4 linked regions of the Homo sapiens genome follow. The protein of the gene in region 2 interacts with the protein of the main gene of each other region in a biochemical or structural test. Each region holds a gene or a part of one and is shown on either strand. Other genes may lie near its edges.

Region 1 (5,007 bases), on a different chromosome or scaffold from region 2:
TTATATTTCATTAAATCAGCCCATCATCAGAACAGTGTTTCTTGATGCCTCTCATTTTTTTCTCATGTTTTCTGGCATTTTTCCTTCATTACTTTTTTTTTAGTTCATAATTCAATATTTATATGATTGTTTGATGTATAATAGACAAAAATACATCTGCTTTGCTTTCGAGTATCTAACATAGTGTCTGCCTCATAAAAGGCACTCAGTAAGTACTTGTTGAATGAATAAGTGGTTGATTGAATGCATGATTGAATGAAGTGATATTTGAATTTAGCTTTAAAGGTGATTGGAATTTTGGACAGGTAGAGCAAATGAATGGGAAATTTATTGTTCTGAAGTGGAAACTGGATCATATTGCTCATGTAATTTCAGAAAACTGGAGAAACTGGTTTGGGAAAATGGAAGAGTTGGTTTTATATCTAGTATGCTAAGTTTGAGGTATGGAAATTTAGCAGGCATTTAGAAATGAAGCACTGATCTGAAGGGTGAGATTGATTCCAGATATTCACTTTTGGGAGTTACCTGACTGGAGAATGTGAAATCTGTTCCTTTCACAAATACCTGGTAAGCTCCTACTGTGTGCCAGACAGCTATGTTATAGGGAAGGTGAACTGCAGTCTGAGAAGGAGCCAGTCTTGTGAAAAGAGCTAGGGAGAATGTTTCAGCCAGAAAAGGAACCCAAGTTTGTAGGCCCTGGGGCAATAAATAATTTATAATTTTTGAGGAATTGAAGGAAGGTGACCGAAGGACAGAGCAAGGTGAGTGAAGTGGGAGAGCTGCATGAGGTAAAGTGGAAAAGGCAAGCAGAGCCCACATCACATGGGGACTTTGTGGGCTAGATAGTGAGTCTAGCCTTCACTCAAAAGTGTGGTGGGGCTGGGCATGGTGGCTCACACCTGTAATCCTAGCACTTTGGGAGGCTGAGGCAGGTGGATCACCTGAGGTCAGGAGTTTGAGACCAGCCTGGTCAACGTGGTGAAACCCCATCTCTACTAAAAATATAAAAAATTTTAGCCAGGCATGGTGGCTTATGCCTGTAATCCGTGCTACTCGGGAGGCTGAGGCAGGAGAATTGTTGGAACCCGGGAGGTGGATGTTGCAGTGAGCCGAGGTTGCACCACTGTACTCCAGCCTGGGTAACAAAAGTGAAAACTCTGTCTCAAAAAAAAAGAAAAAGAAAAAAAAAAAGGGTGGTGGGACACCATTGAAGGCTTAAAACAGAAAGTGACAAGCAAAGATTCTTTTTCTAAATAAAAGGTTACCCTGGCTACTCTGTAGAGAATAGAGAGTCACAAAGAAGGGACCAGTAAGGAAGTGTTTGTCTCCCTTCTTGAGAAGGATCATCGCAGATAGGGCAGGATATGGCAGTGGACATAGAACGGGATAGTTGCAGGATGCATTTAAAAAGTAGAACCAGGCTGGGCATGGTGGCTCACGCCTGTAATCCCAGCACTTTGGGAGGCTGAAGTGGGCAGATCACCTGAGGTCAGGAGTTTGAGACCAGCCTGACCAACATGGAGAAATCCCGTCTCTACTAAAAATACAAAATTAGCCGGGCGTGGTGGTGCATGCCTGTAATCCCAGCTACTCAGAAGGCTGAGGCAGGAGAATCATTTGAACCCAGGAGGCGGAGGTTGTGGTGAGCCGAGATCATGCCACTGCATTCCAGCCTGGGCAACAGAGCAAAACTTTGTCTCAAAAAAAAAAAAAAAAAAAAGTAGAAGTAAAATTCACTAGAGAAGGAAAGGAAGAAGGAAGAGTATGGAGTACAGAACCCTAGGGCCTATGTAGGGGGCAAAAGAAGGAACCAGGGAAGGAAAATAAGGGAGCAAGAGTGGTCATTGATGTCAAAGGTAAGTCAGGCTACCACGCTTGCAGTGGGAGCCAGTGTGGGAGAAGGAGTCTGTAAGGGGAATTCAAGTGTATCCAGAGTAAGTGTGCTGTCTGATGTGTGGCAAGTCAATACCCAAGACCTGGGGGCGGGGTTTATTTGTTGGGCTGCAGAATGAGGAGATGAGAGGGAACTGCAAATCCGTCCTCCTGAGGAGTTTGGAGCTAGGGTTTTTAAGGATTTTGGAGTGGGCTGGAATGTGGAGATTGTTGGGTGGTCAGAGAGAGAAAGGTGAAGTAATGGGACCCGGAGATGAAAAAACTGTATTATGCTGATTTTATTTCTCTCTGAGGGTCTTCAAACTGGTTGGCATCAGCTGTTTTACCAGAATTTGGGATCTGAAAAATATCTCAAGCAATTCTTAAAAAAAAAGCCTTATGCTTCTAATGTCAGAGATACTATCTTTAGAAACAATAGGGATGCAAATGGTCAGTATCTAGCGCTGTGTGACTTTCAGTTACAAGGAAATGTGTCAAAATCCAGCCTGATTAATGTTTTTTTTTTGTTTGTTTGTTTGTTTGTTTTTTTTTGAGATGGAGTTTTGCTCTTGTGGCCCAGGCTGGAGTGCAATGGCATGATCTCGGCTCACTGCAACCTCTGCCTCCTGGGTTCAAGTGATTCTCCTGCCTCAGCCTCCTGAGTAGCTAGACTACAGGTGTGTGCCACCACACCTGGCTAATTTTGTATTTTTAGTAGAGATGGGTTTTCACCGTTTTGGCCAGGCTGGTCTCAAACTCCTGACCTCAGGTGATCCGCCCACCTTGGCCTCCCAAAGTGCTGGGATTACAGGTGAGCCATCGCACCTGGCCTAATGCTTAATTAAAGTTATATTTCTGTCCATAGTTCTTGGTAACCCTCTGAAGACAGCTTCATAATGAAGAATTTGGGTAGGTTTTGGGTGCATGGGGCTTCAGGGAGTCATGAAGGTTGAGGACATAGGAAAGAATCACACATTTATCCATCAGAAGATCATTGGTGACCATTGGCCGGGCGCTGTGGCTCACGCCTGTAATCCCAGCACTTTGGGAGGCCGAGGCAAGTGGATCACGAGGTCAGGAGATCGAGACCATCTTGGCTAACACGGTGAAACCCCGTGTCTACTAAAAATACAAAAAAATTGGCCAGGCGTGCTGGTGGGCACCCGTAGTCCCAGCTACTCAGGAGGCTGAGGCAGGAGAATGGCGTGAACCCGGGAGGTGGAGCTTGCAGTGAGCCAAAATCGCGCCACTGCACTCCAGCCTGGGCAACAAAGCAAGACTCAATCTCAAAAAAAAAAAAAAAGCTGTTGGATCGGTGTTTACTAAGCACCTACTCTAAGCCTGTCACTGTGTTAGTGTTAAGGATTTGTGTGAATGACCTCTTTTAGGTACTTCATTTTACAGATGAGAAAAATGACGCTTAGGGAATTAATCACCTTAACAGGTCACACAGAAAGAAGACTATGAGTTCTGTCTGACCCAGGCCCCATGCTCCTAAACCTTGCATGACACTGCTCTTTGGAAAGCCCTATCAGGACATCAGCTAGAGAGGAATGAAAGGTTTTTAGAGCCCAGTGATGGCTTACCCCAGCTGTATGAATTTGTTAGCAACCCAGTTAAATAAAGTCTTCTGATTTTTCTATAGTAATCTGGCAGTTTAGGAATGGAGAGGTGGGGGAGGGAGGGGAAGATAAAAGATAGAGTAAGAGTTCAGTAAATTAGAAAGGGGATTATTTTGTTGTTCATAAGTGTAATGATTGGATTTTCATGCACATGTATGAGATGTGCCTCCATCAAGCCTTGTTACTACAAAGTCAGTGCATTACCCATCTGATGTGGGAAAAATAAATCAGAAAGAGGCCTCAGCTTGTGGGAATGGTGGAATGCAATGGCTTGTGTTGTTAAGCAAAATTGTGTTTTACAGTAAATATTTATTGTGGTTCTTTTGATGCAAGTTATATTGGGATATGGAGGAAAATGCAAAAATGGATAAGATGGTGTATTTGACCTCTACACGGTTAGAGAGGAAGGTAAAGTGCTTCACTATAGTGCTTGATTGAAGGGTATGACAGGGGTGGAAGGTGGAGAAGTATGGGAAAGTATTATACAAGTTAGCTTGTAGAGCGAGGGTGGCATTAGGTAGGGCTGGCCAGGGTGGTGCCAATCTAGCTTCTCAGGATGACCCCTCAGGATTTTGGTCACTGTGTCGTCAGTCTAGTCTTGGGTCACAAAATGTATTTTGTGGAGAACCTGGAAATAATTAGTCTTGAAGACAGGATTGTATTCAGACTTGAGTGATTGAGCTCAGAATGGAATGCCAATTTATTATTTTAGAATGAAGGATTCCTTTTCCGTTAACGGGATTCTGGAATTTGTTAGGATAATTGCTTTTCAATATCAAGAGATCTGGCAATCAAATTTAATAATATCAAGCTTGCTTGGTGAGCATGGATTTATAAGATAGAATGGTTTGTGGGGGAGAATATAGTTACAAAAAAGATTATTGTTTCCCATAATGCCTGGTATTGTATTAAGTACTTTGCATACAGTAGGGCATTTCATTGTCCCAGTGATCCTCCTGCAAAGTAGGTACAATTATCTTCAATTTACAAATGAGGAAACCAAGCTCTCTTCAAGCTGATAAGATGCTGAACTGAGATTTGAACCAAGTCCCTCTGCCCCTAAGAGCCCCTACCCCTAGCTGCTACTATATGCTGTACCCATCTAAGCTTTGTGAAATAACCTTGTTCCACTGCAGAGAAGATGTTGTGTCACCTATCTCTAGTATTTCTTGGCTTTGGGCAGTTCTGGAGTCAAAATGCCCCTCCCTGTTTTTTCTAGATTTTTCCAGATTTCTTTGTTAACCAGTCTTAGATGTGGTCACATTCTTTGTTTAAATACCCGTGTATTAATATAGTCATCCAAGCCTTTTTGTCCTCTTCTTGCTTTTGGTTTGGAAGATACTCTGTCTCTTTGGAGGAACTTTACATATCTGTGCACATTGATTTTGTGTTGATTTTATTATCTTAATTTTATGGGTTAAGTTTTTGAGTTTCTTCCAGCTCCTAGTCCATCAACTCCTTCCTGTCCCCTTCCTCTTCCACTAGACTTAAATTCAGATACTAATGCCAATTT
Region 2 (5,501 bases):
GCCATGTAGTAGAGGGTGCCGCCATTCTTCTTAGCGGTGCCGTCCACTTCCCTCAGCTCATTGTGCTCTTCATTATTCAGTTTGCTCCACATCTTAAAGGAGGCAAGGCCGAGGTCTGCGATCTGCGAAAGACATTGAGCCACTGGGATTGTTTGGTGAAGGCCGTAAGCAAATCAGATCTGACTTTCAATTTTGGGCTTATCCATTATACATAAGGTACGGTAAATTTTCCAGAAATGGTTGCACTGGGCAGGTTCAAAACAGCGACTTCTCAACAGACTCATAGAAACTGTGTGTCTCCTCAGCCATTTGTAAAATGTCGCCCAGGAAACGTTCACATGAAATTCTGGTATCGTATTCCTTATGCAGTAAGGGGGAGGGGAAAAGCGGAAGATGTTTCTGACAAGAACAGTAACAACCAAACATATTTATTCTCATTCCCCATTGACTCTGCGTATGTTTTTCAACTATTTCTAGGGCTTGGGGGGAAAATGGTTATTTTCTTCTCTGCACATTTATGCAGCAGACAGTGGCTAAATACTACACCTTCTATTTCCCCAAATGGCGTCCAGAGGCCCATGGATGCAAGTGTCCAAGGATCCCAAAGACACACTGAGGATAAGGACTGCAGTGTTGCTTGTTTTGAGCTGTAGCCTGAACCTAAGAGGAGATAGGGTGGAAAGGAGGAGAAAAACAGACAAAAAAGCAGAGAGAAAAATAGCAAGGTCAGACACAGAACAAGAACAGTGCTGGCAGGGCAAAATGACAGGGCAGCACAGTTCAGAAGAGAATATAGGTGCCAGTTCCACTTCTGCCTCCAGGAATCCAAGCAAGCATGTGGGGATGAACTGTGGCACATGAGTACCTAAAATTCACAGATTCTAACCCACGACATAAGAGGGAAGTCATGAATTTGAAGATAGGTTATGAATAAGGAATTTTTATTCCCAGCCCTTTGTCCAAGACTAGGACAAAGCGCTAGACGCAGAACCTGCTGGTGATGAGAGGCCCCTGTGTCAGCAGCTCCTGGGTGCCTCCCCCAGGGCTGCTTCCCCTTCCGCTTCCCCTTTTGGATTCTTGTGCTTGGATTCCTGCTGCAGAAGCCAATTAGATATGACACTCCCCCTAGCTAAATCCTGCCCTTGAATGAACAAAAGAAAAATCCCTTTCCCTTGTTCCCTTTACGACAATGGAAAGAATGTGTTCAAAGGAAACTGATTTTTAAAATACAGACAGAAGTAAACAATCGAATACAAATATAAAACAAAATTTCAAAGTAGAGGTTTTTGATGCACTGCTGATTTTTTTTTTTTTTTTTTTTTTTTTTTTTTTTTTTTTTTTTTTTTAAGGCAGAGTTTCGCTCTTGTTGCCCAGGCTGGAGTGCGATGGCACAATCTCGGCTCACCACAACCTCCACCTCCCCGGTTCAGGCGATTCTCCTGCCCCAGCCTCCCGAGTAGCTGGAATTACAGGCATGCACCACCACGCCCGGCTGATTTTGTATTTTCAGTAGAGATGGGGTTTCTCCATGTTGGTCAGGCTGGTCTCGAACTCCCGACCTCAGGTGATCCGCCCACCTCAGCCTCCCAAAGTGCTGAGATAACAGGCGTGGGCCACTGCACCCGGCCGCTGATCTCACTCTTAGGCCATATCTGAACTCTAAGGATTTTCCGCACACACCTTCACATTCCCCTGCATTTCCAGAGGAGGAGAGTCTTGGTGACACAGATTTCCTGGAGAACATTATGACACCAATGGCCCATTCCAGGATGAAAAGGGCAACCCTTGAATGTTTCTAAATGTTTCTAACAGAGGAAAAAACACAGTCTAGGAAAGAGGTCTTCTCATCTACCCCATTCAACTCCACTCCTCCCCCAAAAGATATGAGTTATCCTGACAGTTATCTCCTGATCCCATCAAGCCTGCAGCCTTCCTCTCAATCACCGGTAGAGCCTTTCGGCACCATCATCAACAGTTATAAGCTGAGCTAGGTCTTCCTTTAGCTTCTCCAATGTACGAGAATGGATTTACATTGGAGAATTAAAACTAAAATCACCCAACTTTCTGGAAGCCTACCGATGATGGTTTACCTTAATGTGGAAGTCATTATCAACAAGGATATTTTCAGGCTTCAGGTCCTTGTGTATCACGCCTTTTCCATGTAAGTAGCACATTCCTTCAATGATTTCCAAAATTATCCTTCCTTTTACAGAAAGCGGAGTACTCATCTAAAACAAGTGATATTAAGTCTATGAAATGGAAAGGTTATCAAATAGGCCAAAGCAACTGTTTCATGAAAGGGTGGTGGGATCTGAGCCTGAGGAGAAGGTTACCAGGTTTCCTTCCAGCAGGTGCACCACAGTACTGCTGTCACTGGGAAACAAGAAAGATTTCATTCGGGGGGGGGCAGAGGGTATTCGTGTTGTATTTTGTTAGTGTAAAAACAAAAATCCCACAATAATTTGGTAATGCATAAAATACTATAAAATTAAGCTCCTTGAGAACAAAAATATATATTATTTAGGACTGTATCTTTAGAACCTAGGATTGTACCTGGAATGCTTGTTGAATGAATGGATGAATAAATATACGAGCAAGCAGTTTCTGTGGGATACTCACACGACATCATACTAAGTTTACATTAAGGACATGAACAATGCCATGCAAATGTCGCGTGTAAAATAACATTAAGAGAAAAAAGAATACAAGGGAACATGTTCACACTGATTACAATCATAGAAAAATCTGAGATAAACATGATGTTAAAACTACGCTTAAGTGAATTAATATCTATTTGATGACCTGGTAGCAGATACTTCAGGCTTCTGTAGAGTCTCAGGTCACTGGTTCTTATAATTGTATTCTTGTTATGTGAGCATCAATACTAACAGAAACAATTCCAGTTTCTATTATAGTGGTTAAATTACAGTTTTGCTTAACAATAAAAAATCAGTATACAAACAAGATGTTTCCTAAAAATGTATATGTATTTTGGTCGTTGGTTAACAGGAAAAAAATTTTAATGATAGAAGTGAGATTCCCCCTCAAACCATATTTATGACATAACGTAGCAGAGCTACACTGTTAATAGCTTGATCACCACCATACAGAAAGTAGCAGAAAAGATGTTTTCTCTTCTTCCTTGGTATACCTTTGGACTTAGGAAAAACTTCTGAGTAAGCAAAGTTGGTCCCCCTCTCTCCTCTCTTTCTGCTTCTCTCTCAGGTCCTCCTGATGCCCTGACTGAGTCCAAACAGGTGCACCTGAACTTTCCCTCATCTTGCACAATGCCTCATGTCCCCAATGATTTCTCTCTCATCTCAGAAGCTAAGCAGGGTTGGGCCTGGTTAGTACTTGGATGGGAGACCAAAGACTTATTTCCCAATCAAAATGTTTACTTCAAACAGCTGATCTTCTCTAGTTCTGGGGTGGAGAGCAATCTGATCAAACTATAATACCATGCGTATAAGTGATCACCTCTTCTCCTTCCCAAGGGTATTTTTGTGAGATGTCTGTTGGCTTGGCAATTGTGGGGTGGGAGAAGAAAGTGGAAAAGTGGGAGTATTTGCCATAAAGGCAGCCATATCCCGCCACCCCTCCCCATACCCTGTGCAATCTATGCTCTAGCCAAACCCAGGAATTTACAGTTCCCCAAATTTGGCAGTCTCTACATGGTATTCTCTCTGCCTAGAACACTTGTTCTCTAATTCTCTGCTTCAAAACGTCTACATGTCCTTCACATTGGAAGCCTTTTCTGTCTATTCCAGGCTGAGTGGGTGCCTCTCATGTGTACTCCCTCAGCAATGAGTATGTCTATCAAAACACCATCAGCTGGGAACGGTGGCTCATGCCTGTAATCCCAGAACTTCGGGAGGCCAAGGCAGTCGGATCACGAGGTCAGGAGTTCGAGACCAGCCTGACCAACATGGTGAAAACTTGTCTCTACTAAAAATTAAAAAAATAGCCAGGCATGGTGGTAGGCGCCTGTAATCCCAGCTACTCAAGAGGCTGAGGCAGGAGAGTTGCTTGAACCAGGGAGGTGGAGGTTGCAGTGAGCCGAGATTGCACCATTGCACTCCAGCCTGGGCGACAGAGCGAGACTCCTCTAAAAAAAAAAATACCACCACACAGCTGGGTGCAGTGGCTCATGCCCATAGTCCCAGCTACTCAGGAGGCTGAGGTGAGAGGATCATTTAAGGCCAGGAGTTCAAGCCTGCAGTGCACTATGATTGTGCCACTGCACTCCAGCCTGGGCAACACAGTGAGACCTTGTTCTCTTACAAAAGAAAAAAAAAAAACCCCATCACACCATACCACTTATTTAGCTATCTGCCTCCTTTTACTCTCCTACGTCATATTAGCTATTGATTCATGAGCAACTAGCGCAAGGCCTTCATCTTAACAGGCACATAAGCTTTTAAAAATGTTTTCAAATCATTTGACTTTGGTAAACAATTTTTATTTTTGTTTTAAATCCTATCCAGTGTTGTTGCCAATAATTTCTATATTTAATTTAAAATAAAACTTTGTTGAATGGTATCAAAGTGCAACCACTAATATTCTATCTGCTCTCACGGTCATTTATAGTGTATATCCTTTCATTAATCCATATTTAATGTCATCCCATCATGCATATACTCTACATCAGATGATGTCTGCATCATGAAGACAGGGCTTGTCTCTGAACTGTAGATTGCAGAGCAGCGGACAGGTATGGTAAACAGCCAATCACATTCCTAAGACACAGACTATGGAGGACTGTCCACAGGATCGAGAGGATGAAGAGACCACTCTCAGGGCAGTAAAAGGCAAGGAAGATTTTCTCTTTTTTTCAGAGACAGGGTCTTGCTCTGTTCACATGCACCTTTTATTTTTTGTAGAGAGGGGATTTCACTGTGTTATCCAGGCTGGTCTTGAGCACCAAGGCTCAAGTGATCCTCCTGCCAAAAGTGCTGAGATTACAGAAGTGACCCACGGAGCCCAATCAAGGCATAGATGTTTTAAGGAGAAACTGACTTCAGGAAATCCAGCCTGTAATCCCAGCTACTTGAGAGGCTGAGGTGGGAGGATCACTTGAGACCAGGTGTTGGAGTTCAGCCTGGGCAACATAGCAAGACCTTGTCTCTATAAAAAAAGGAAAAGAAAATTCAAACTACCAAGCAATTTGCAAATTTGATGCTAACGAGCTGCAAACAAACACCCCAAGGGGAGCCATAACAGACAGCCAGGGCCCAAGCGCTGGGGATCCCCGTGCGGAGGGGCCCTCTCTACCTCGGCTTTCAGCACGTGCATCAGGTTGCCCTTCTCCATGTACTCCATCACCAGGGAGTACTTCCCTTCCTCTATGATGACGCCCAGGAGCTTCACCACCCGGCTGTGTCTCAGTCTGTTCATCATCTTCGCCTCCTCCAAGAGGGCCTCGTTGTGCCTGTGGGCAGGAAAGGTGCTATGCTGAGGCTGGCAGAGCCAGCGCCTCAAGAGCCTGGTGCACACCTCCAACA
Region 3 (5,007 bases), on a different chromosome or scaffold from region 2:
AGTCATCAGCTGAATTGGTTTCATAAAATGGTTCCACCGCAAACATACTAAAGCAGTTCTTTCTGTTTGAGTCATCCTTTTGAAATCAGCCACAAGGAAACTCTAGTATAGATGGAAATCTGTTTTATCTGAGATAATATATGCAGTCCACATTGTTTTTCATCATAAAAAAATGTTATAACATTTTCATGTTTTAAAACATTTTCCTTTTTTTCTCAGTACCCCATTATGCCTACCCACTTGCCCACTAAAATAGAAGTGCTCAGAAGATATGTAAACAATCTGCATAAGATTTGTTTTGTCCCTTGCTTAGTATTTGTTTTGCTTTTTTTTTTAGGGCAGGAATTTTGTACTTGTGTTTAGTAGGTAGTAAGCAAAAGGCTGTGTGTGATGTAAATAATGAAAGAAAACATTTGTTAGGTTGAGAGACAAAGATTGATTTCTCAGTTTTTCTTCTTTAGGTGAAACTGACAGATATTATACAAAGTCTTTCCTTTGGGAAGACTTGATATGAAAATAATTGTATTTCACTGGCCCTTAAAAAGGAAATGATTAGAATGTTTAACAGTCAAATTAATAATACTATTCCTAATAAATACATATTTTATGAGTAACTTTTCATGTTCTCCCAGCCCACAAAGAAAATAACACTATTCCAGAATATGTTTATTTTAAAATTTTTTTTTAACTCTGGAAGTTTAGTTCCTGCTAATGAGAGCAACATGCTTTCGAGTATCAAGCAAAGTTTCAAAGTAATAGATAAAATAGAAGACAGTTTTATTAGGAAGATTTTCTTTAGCATTTCTTCTAGTCTTGAGTAGAATTAATGGTGCTATTTCATGTTCTTGGTGCTAGATAACATTGGGATAGGGCTGAATACATGAGGTCAAACTAACTTAATTGAAGACCAACAAATGAAGCCAGTAATCGAGACATTCGGATGTTTTTTATGTACATACTCATTTAAAGTTCTCAAGTACATGACTTCAGGAATTTTTTTTTTTTTTTCTTTTTTTTTGAGACAGAGTTTCTCTCCGTCACCCAGGCTGGAGGATCACAGCTCACTGTAGCCTCAAACTCCTGGGCACAAGTGATCCTCCCACCTCAGCTTTCTGAGTAGCTGGGGCTATAGGTGCATGCCATGACATTTGGCTAATGTTTTCTGTTTTTACTTTTTTTTTTTTAAATCTTTTGTAGAGACGGGAGTCTTACTATGTTGCGCAGGCTGGTCTCAAACTCCTGGCCTCAAGTGATCCTCTCACCTTGGCCTCCCAAAGTGCTGGGATTACGGGCATGAGCCACCATGCCCAGCCTAGGAATTCATTTTGAAGAATTCTTTTACTCAGATTTTAAAATATAGAGAGAATATATAAAGACAGTGAGTAGGAAAGCATTGTCTAGGTACTGGTCTTTGTTAAAGAGTATAAACCTTTGGGAAGATCATGAATCTTTCTTCAGAGAACACATAAAAAAAAAAGTTCCAGGAAGAATAGCTGTCACAGCATTTTATTTGCAGTTTAATAAGGCCAGTTGTATATTGATTGATTATATGCCATTTTTAAATTTTGAAAACTATCTTGGGTCATTTATGTATATAAATAACTGGTACTACAAAAGTGTTTTATTTTGGGTTTAGATTATCAAATACAGAAGTAGAAGCCAAGATTGAATGTGTTCCTGTGATTGAAACTTTGATGTCACTGATAAAATATCCCCAGATAAGGCCTTCTAAGAGATCTAAGCAGAGTAAGAATATGTCTGATTGGAAATATATTGTTTTTCTTGGCTAATTTGACCAAGGGCTCTAGAAATTATATGGAGGGTATATGCCAGCCGTACTCTTGTTTTTTAGTTTCTTGTCTAAGCAAAAAAATTGTTCTTTTGCTATAGACGCAATAGAACTAAATCTATAGTGTTATGCACGTTACTTGTAAATTCTTATGTCAGGACCAAATGGTCGCTTATATTTTTTCCAGCTCCCAAATTCCCTTTATTCCACTTTAGTCCCTTCATTTTCAGAGATGAGGAAACAGATTGCTTTGTTCAAAGACAGCTAGAACTAGAACACAGGCTAATACTTGCTAGCCATGTGATATACTAATGTCAGCCAAATACGGGCATTTACACTTTCAGATGTTTGCCATATCTGTGCACTTACTAATTCTATTTAATACAATTTAAATTGACTCCTTTAAATAAGCTTATTTTAAAGGAAATTTTTTGCTACTATAAATAGAAAACCATTATATCCTTTAAATAGTAACTCTAAATAGGAATTCAAAACAAAGCAACGTTATTAAAATTTAATTTAAAATTAATTTAAATTTAATTGTTATTAAATTTTTAATTATTGCTGTTCTTCGTCAGAAATGTGTCAAAGCATTGTTTTCATGTTTGATGTCAGTTCCTTAATTGTCTAAACAGAAAAAGCACAGCTAATGCCTCTAGTTAAGCTTCTGTATAACTTTTTTAAATGAAATGCTTCTTAGAGGGGAAATGAGAGGGCATGAATACATGTTTATATACTAAAGTATGATTTCATGTATATCAGAAGATCTTATTATATGGAACCAAAATTATTCTTTGGTTGATTTAATTGTTCTTGAAACTTCAGTTTTTACCTTGAAGGTTTTAGTTAGCTTAGCATAAGTTTATTTTTCTAAATAAGGAATCTGATTGCCTCACAACTCAGATGTATCACAGTTATGGTGAAATAGCAATATATTGGTTTCTGTAACCTTTTAAATACCGTAATGAATTAAAATCTCTTCAGCAAAAGCAAATATATCTAGGGTGACGAGAGGTGTTTTTAGTGTATTTGAATGATGGAAATGTTTTTCTTAAAATATTTCTGAAGCATTTTTTAAAATAATTTTTTGAATTTATTGATGATAGTAGTTGTGTGTTAGTGTGAATGACTGGTCTAAATGTGTATGTCACTTCCAAGGGATTAGTAGGGGTCAGAATGATTTGTTTTATTCATTGACTTTTCCTTTGACGTGTTCTTATTCATTGGGCTACATACATTCCCTGTTGCCTTCTCACCAAAAGTGCCACTACACAGGCTGTATTTCATTGTACTGTAGAAAAAGACAAGTAGACCTTTTTCATTCATGAGATTCCTATGAAATCTGTTGGTGGAGGTATAAAATGAGGAGACTTTTATGGGCTAGCTAGTAGGAGTTTTGCTGTGAAACCTTTGTAACAGGTCTATCAGGAACTAGGGAGAGAAATAAATGCAGGAAATACTTGATCCCATTAAACTGAGGATGAAAAAGACATGATAATATTTTGGGGATTATTTATTGTGTGATTTTCCGGCTGATCAGAAGTGTTAATTTTTTGTTATACTTGTGTCAAATACATATATATATATATATTTTGAAATGGAGTCTTGCTCTGTCACCCAGGCTGGAGTGCAGTGGTGCGATCTGGGTTCACTGCAACCTCTGCCTCCAGGTTCAAGTGATCCTCCTGCCTCAGCCTCCCGAGTAGCTAGGACTACAGGCACGTGCCACCACGCCCTGCTAATTTTTGTATTCTTAGTGGAGATGGGGTTTCACCATGTTGGCCAGGCTGGTCTTGAACTCCTGACCTCAAGTGATCTTCCCACCTTGGCCTTTCTGAACTATTTCCTTTACACACATTTAGAACTACATCTAACTGTATTATAGTTTTCACTTTCACCATCAGACAAAATTCAGAAGATTCAAGAGAAGGAAAGTCGATTGTATTTACTCATATTTTTGCTACCGTGTTTTTACATCTCATATTTTAAGGTTCTTTTATTTATTTATTTTCTGTTTAGTTAATTTCCTCTAGCCATTCTTTATTTATAGTGGGTCTGCTGGTAACAAATTCTCTCAATTTTTCCTCGTCTGAGAATGTCTTGACTTCCCTTCCATTTTTGTCAGCACCTGAAAAATACTATGCCACTATCTTCTGGGTTCTGTGGTTTCTGATGAGAACTCCACTGTCAGTCTAATTGTCGTTATAAATGCAGTGTTCTCTCTCTCTCTCTGCTTCCAGGATATTTTTTCTTTTTTTTTTTTTTTTTTTTTCTTGAGACGGAGTCTCACTCTGTCGCCCAGGCTGGAGTGCAGTGGCGCAATTTTGGCTCACTGCAAGCTCTGCCTCCCGGGTTCAAGCGATTACTCCCACTTTAGCCTCCCAAGTAGCTAGGACTACAAGGCACACCACCATGCCTGGCTAATTTTTGTATTTTTAGTAGAGACGGGGTTTCACCATGTTGCCCAGGCTGGTCTCGAACTCCTGACATCAAGTGATCTTCCCGCCTCCGCTTCCCAAAGTGCTGGAATTACAGGCGTGAGCCACTGCTCCCAGCCTCTTTATTTTTTCAGCTTTACTCTTTCTTCTGTCTTTTTGACATGTGTGTCCAGTGACACACGTGTTAGATTTTGCTATAGTCTCACGCACGGGTCTATAAGGCTCTGTTTTTTGTTTCATTTTGTTTTTCCTATTTTCTCTCTATTCAGATCGAGTAATTTCCACTGTTCAGTTTTATCATAGCTGCTTTTAAATCTTTGTCAGGTAATTCTGTCATCTAAGTTTTGGCACCTATTGATTATCTTTTGCATTGTTTTTGTTTTTGTTTCTGTTTTTGTTTTGAGATGGAGTCTTGCTCTGTTGCCCAGGTTGGAGTGCAGTGGCACTGATCTCGGCTCACTGCAACCTCCTCCTCCCGGGTTCAAGTGGTTCTCCTGCCTCAACCTCCTTAGTAGCTGGGATTACAGGCATGTGCCACCACGCCCGGCTAATTTTGTATTTTTAGTAGAGACCAGGTTTATCCATGTTGGTCAGGCTGGTCTCAAACTCCCAACCTCAAGTGATCCGCCTGCCTCGACCTCCCAAAGTGCTGGGATTACAGGCGTGAACCACTGCACCCAGCCTATCTTTTGCATTGTTTTAAATCTTGTTCTTGCTAGGATGAATGATTTTCTGTTAAAACTAGATATTTTCATATTATGTTCCTAGGCTCTGGATATT
Region 4 (5,007 bases), on a different chromosome or scaffold from region 2:
ATCCTTTATAGGGTGCTTTTCATGAGGATCTCTAAACTAGATAAACAGTTGTAAGAATTAAAGCAGAATAATGGGAAGAGTCTGGATTTTGGAGTGAGCCAGACCTGGATTCCAACCCCACCTTGGCCACTCGCTACCCATGTGTTCTGGGCCTCAGTTCCCTCATCTGTCAAAGTGGAGTAATGGCAATGGTGGTGGTGGTGCTGGTGAACAATTACTGCATGCTTACCACATACTGCAGGCGCCATTCTAAAGGCTTCCACGTCGTAACTCATCTAATCCTCTCAATAACTCTAAGGAAGGTTGGGTATCACCTGCATTTCACTGCTGAGGAACTAAGGCACAGAGCAGAAGTAATTTCACAAGGCCATAGAACTGGTGGGGCTGGGATGGGGCTGGGATGTGGCAACCACATGCAATGTTTTTGCTTGGACCCCAAGTTCTGTCTAAATCTTTCATCACAATAGTTTGGACTAAATCACTCATTCCAATGATAAATATTCTCAAATGTCCTTATCTCCTTTTTTGGCTGAATTCAACAATTGTTCTTGATAACACATAAACAAGCCCTCACGAATAGCTTTAATTACAGCTGAGGCCAACTATGGGGAAACACCTCCAAGAATGAGTCAGACTAAGGAAATTTTCTTTCCTTTTTCTTTTTTTTGAGACAGAGTCTAGCTCTGTCACCCAGGCTGGAGTGCAGTGGGACAATCTTGGCTCACAGCAACCTCCACCTCTGGGGTTCAAGCGATTCTCCTGCCTCAGCCTCCCCAGTAGCTGAGACTACAGGAGTGCGCCACCACGCCTGGTTAATTTTTGTATTTTTAGTAAAGATAGGGTTTCACCATATTGGCCAGGCTGGTCTCAAACTCCTGGCCTCAAGTGATCTGCCCACCTTGGCCTCCCAAAGTGTTGGGATTACAGGTGTGAGCCACCGTGCTCAGCCAGGAAATTTTTTTTTTTTTTTTGAGATGGAGTTTCACTCTTGTTGTCCAGGCTGGAGTGCAATGGCACGATCTCAGCTCACCAAAACCTCCGCCTGCCAGGTTCAAGTGATTCTCCTGCCTCAGCCTCCTGAGTAGCTGGGATTACAGCCATGGGCCACCACACCCAGCTAATTTTGTATTTTTTTTTAGCACAGATGGGGTTTCTCCATGTTGGTCAGGCTGGTCTTGAATTCCCGACCTCAGGTGACTCGCCCACATTGGCCTCCCAAAGTGTTGGGATTACAAGCATGAGCCACCGTGCCTGGCCAGAAATTTTTATAAAAAAGAAGTTAGGGGCCAGGCACGGTGGCTCACGCCTGTAATCTCAGCACTTTCGGAGGCCGAGGTGGGTGAGGATCACCTGATGTCAGGAGTTCGAGACCAGCCTGGCCAACATGGTGAAACCCCGTCTCTACTGAAAATACAAAAAATTAGCCGGGCGTGGTGGTGGGTGCTTGTAATCCCAGCTACTCAGGAGGCTGAGGCAGGAGAATCACTTGAACCCAGGAGGCAGAGGTTGCAGTGAGCCAAGGTCGTGCCACTGCACTCCAGCCTGGGTGACAGGGCGAGACTTTGCCTCAAAAAAAAAAAAAAAGAGAGAGAGAGAGAAGAAGTTAGGGTTAGGCTTAACACAACCCAATCACATTAACCCTAAACTTAACAGAGCCAACAAAGAGTTCCCTCTAGGCTTAAAAAATAACAACAAAACAGGAGGTGGGAGGGTGGTGGTGATTACCTTTATATCTCTTTTTTTCCTCCTCGGTCAGATGTTCTGTGCGTATTTTGGTGATCACATTCACATTGTTTACTGTGTAAACCTGAGAGGTGTATGCGAAAGAAAACAGTGACACAGGGAATCAAAACTCCAAAAGTAAGCACAGCAAAAGCAAGAATGCTGAAGCAAAAAACAGAAAACAATCCAGCAAAATAAAAATGAGAAATGGTTAACTATCATTAGGATCCTTCAGAGAAAGTATATAAACTATCAACTGAAAAATGCATCAGCAGTTACCTCCCATGTTTGACAGTTTTAATACTAAGGAGTTAGCAGTGACAGGCTGCATCTTCCTGCTTGCCCTGCTGTGGCTAAATAGTCTCAAACAAATGCCCTGCAATCTAGGTTTCCACCTGGGTTTCTATTAAACTAAGGTACCCAAACCAGGATCCTGTACTTCTGTTGGTAATTTTTTTTTTTTTTTTTTTTGAGACAGAGTCTCCCTCTGTTGCCCAGGCTGGAGTGCAGTGGCGTGATCTCTGCTCACTGCAGCCTCCGCCTCCTGGGTTCAAGCGATTCTCGTGCCTCAGCCTCCAGAGTAGCTGGGATTACAGGCATGTGCTACTATGACTGGTTAATTTTCGTATTTTTAGTAGAGACGGGGTTTCACCATGTTGGCCAGGCTGGTCTCAAAATCCTGGCCTCAAGTGATCTGCCTACTTGGGCCTCCCAAAGTGCTGGGATTACAGGCGTGAGCCACTGCACCCAGCCTCCGCTGGTAGTCTTGTAATACTAGTATGACTCAGACAGCCATCTGCTGGGCAGAAGAGAAAGGTATGAACACAAGGTTCTCTATAGACTTATGAGCTGTAGAGAAAACCAGCAAGTCACTATTTAAAAGGCATTCTGTGCACTGACAAAAATTATTGTAACTGCCAGAGCAAATGCTCTGTTATCAAGGATAACTGGGGAATATGGTGGTCTAGAAAATCAAACATAACAGTTAACAAAGAATTCTCTCTATATGCCACGTGAGGAGCCCCAACATTCAAAGCTGCAGAAAACACACTCAGCACTATGACAAGTGCTTCTAAATGTATCTTGCTGAGCATGACGTAAGCCTTTCTTTGCTCACTCAGAGGCCACCAGAGGACCCTGCAGCACTGGGCTCCAACACCAAAAGCCATCAATCCCTGTTGTACTGAGGGACTGAAAGGCCAGGAAACAGCTTTCCAGCTGACAAAATGCCAGATGACTGGATCAACAATCGTCTCCACTATTACAACTATGTTTTAAATGCACTGATGTCATGCAAATGGGCTGTGCGCCTGCTGATTACAATTAAGCTGATTTAACAAAAAAGAGACTCAAAAGCTACTACACAACATTTGAACACATGTGAAGTCTAATCCTTCCTCTTCCTTTTTTTTTTTTAAATAATTAAGGGAATGACTAGCTTGTCATTCCTACCAGAACAACTGGTACCTGTACTCATTTCTCTACCATATTGTTTCTCTTTAGCATAGCTACAGACCTCCTCAGGGCATGCTATCCCATTTTCTGAAAGTCAAATAAGACAAAATCAAACATCCAAGTGAGAGACACATTAGACAGTTCTCATTCCCCAGAGCATCTCCATGGCACAGATGCATGAAAAAAATGGGAACAGATTCCTCATTTGCATAGAAGCTAAATAGCTATATTAAATCTTATTTTAAGAGTTTCCTTTTACCTTTGCTTCGTAACCATTAACAACTTCTGCTTTATCTGTCCTCCAGCCCCAGAATCCGGATTTAGTTCTGATAAAAAGTGAACACCACAAATTTCTACATGTACAATATGCCATTCAGATTTATATCTGTAGCCTTTATAGTTTTTTTCCCCCCCAGCTTAAGTTAGTGAAGGACACTTGGAAATCATGGTCCTATTGTCCACAGGAGGCGGTTAGCAATGACAGATGGCTTATGCACCCTCCACCCTCCTCCCACAGTTATTAATCAATTTGCCTCACCCCAGGCATAGAAAGCCTCCAATCTTGGCTTCTTTACAAAACTGCCAGCATTGAGGACAAAGGTGGTGACATTTATTGGACAGCAGTCCCAAAGAAGTGACTGAAGATGACCAGCATCCAAGGGCTTGCCACAAGGTGGTAACCAGGTCAGAGCATTTATCTGGGTCATCTTAACTGGGGACATGCATGTCAATGGTGGGATCTCCACAAGTAGCCACATCTCACTCGAGGAATTCTTAGAACAATGAGGCACAGACCATCCTGCTCCTTACAAAAGAGCAGGTGGGCCAGGAACTCATCACTGTGGTGAGCTGCTTGGAGATGCCATTAGGTCTGCAAAATAGCTGAGTCACATGTTTGGGCAGGTTTGGTGCAGCAGGGCAAAGGATGTGAAAAACAGATTTTTTTAGCCCAGCTGTTAATTCCATCTCTGTGGAACTCCTTTTAAAGTAGCCCAGCATTCCAGTGGCAGATGCAGCATTGGTAATATGCCCAAAATCTCAGTTATTCAACTCAACATACTCCTGAAAAAAAATGTATTTAGGAACCAAAAGCAGCCAGGAGGCTCTGATTCTTTTTCAAAGCAGCTTGCCCTGGGAAACGCTCCCTCTCACAGGGGATCCCTGACCAGCCCTACCCTTTGTCTAGGACATCACATCCCAGCTCCTCTTGGCCCTGGCTACGGCAACAGCCTGACTTCTGCTCTGACCACTGAGTGGTTGGGATGTCATGCAGGAAGCTCAGGGAACAGCAGCAGGTTAGCCACGTTACAAAGAACATATGCGGTTATTAGCATTTTGTTTCCAAATAGTTTGCTTTTCTTCTAATGGGATTTGGTCAATGAAATTAGTCCAGATGGTATAATGAGTTTATGTGTCTATTTTAGCCCATCAGAACAGGAGGGATCAGAGCTCCCATTTTCCTACTAGTTGTCTACAATTAGGACAGCACAACCCGTGGATGGAAACAGAGGAATCCTAAAAGTATTATACCAAATGCTATCTCCAACTGACACTTCAGAAACAAGATAACAGTCACAGGGGCAGAAGGTAAGGAACCAGACTCAACTGATTAATAAGCTACAATCCCCTTTTATCATTAATACCAGAAAATCGAGATAGCCTTTTTCCTTCAATCCTCAGTTCCTTGTTTGCTTAAGTCACTTGATGTCTTGCCACAGGAAGTCACTGTTTTCTGGCACAGACTCTTCTGATGGATGGAAAGATGATTACGTCTGCTCCACCTCACCCTTCATGCACGCTGGGAAGACGGCGCTATGCTTTTCTCCCAAG

Evidence for each region. Proteins that work in one complex are often made in the same cells at the same time.
Region 1: of the proteins of RIPK1 (region 2) and RFFL, one has a biochemical effect on the other in vitro, tested with the Homo sapiens proteins (one study listed by BioGRID).
Region 3: of the proteins of RIPK1 (region 2) and PELI1, one has a biochemical effect on the other in vitro, tested with the Homo sapiens proteins (one study listed by BioGRID).
Region 4: the proteins of RIPK1 (region 2) and ANKRD13A form a complex in vitro, tested with the Homo sapiens proteins (one study listed by BioGRID).

The regions. Positions count from the first base shown.
Region 1 is NC_000017.11:35,053,089-35,058,095, reverse strand, and holds part of RFFL (E3 ubiquitin-protein ligase rififylin), read left to right. Parts: intron 1-3,601; exon of another isoform or gene 3,602-3,708; intron 3,709-5,007.
Region 2 is NC_000006.12:3,077,706-3,083,206, reverse strand, and holds part of RIPK1 (receptor-interacting serine/threonine-protein kinase 1), read right to left. Parts: intron 5,429-5,501; coding exon 5,272-5,428; intron 2,229-5,271; coding exon 2,091-2,228; intron 1,273-2,090; exon of another isoform or gene 547-1,272; intron 123-546; coding exon 1-122. UniProt on the Homo sapiens protein: Serine-threonine kinase which is a key regulator of TNF-mediated apoptosis, necroptosis and inflammatory pathways.
Region 3 is NC_000002.12:64,109,302-64,114,308, reverse strand, and holds part of PELI1 (E3 ubiquitin-protein ligase pellino homolog 1), read left to right. Parts: intron 1-1,636; exon of another isoform or gene 1,637-1,746; intron 1,747-5,007. UniProt on the Homo sapiens protein: E3 ubiquitin ligase catalyzing the covalent attachment of ubiquitin moieties onto substrate proteins. Involved in the TLR and IL-1 signaling pathways via interaction with the complex containing IRAK kinases and TRAF6.
Region 4 is NC_000012.12:110,022,542-110,027,548, reverse strand, and holds part of ANKRD13A (ankyrin repeat domain-containing protein 13A), read right to left. Parts: intron 3,504-5,007; coding exon 3,437-3,503; intron 1,808-3,436; coding exon 1,726-1,807; intron 1-1,725. UniProt on the Homo sapiens protein: Ubiquitin-binding protein that specifically recognizes and binds 'Lys-63'-linked ubiquitin. Does not bind 'Lys-48'-linked ubiquitin.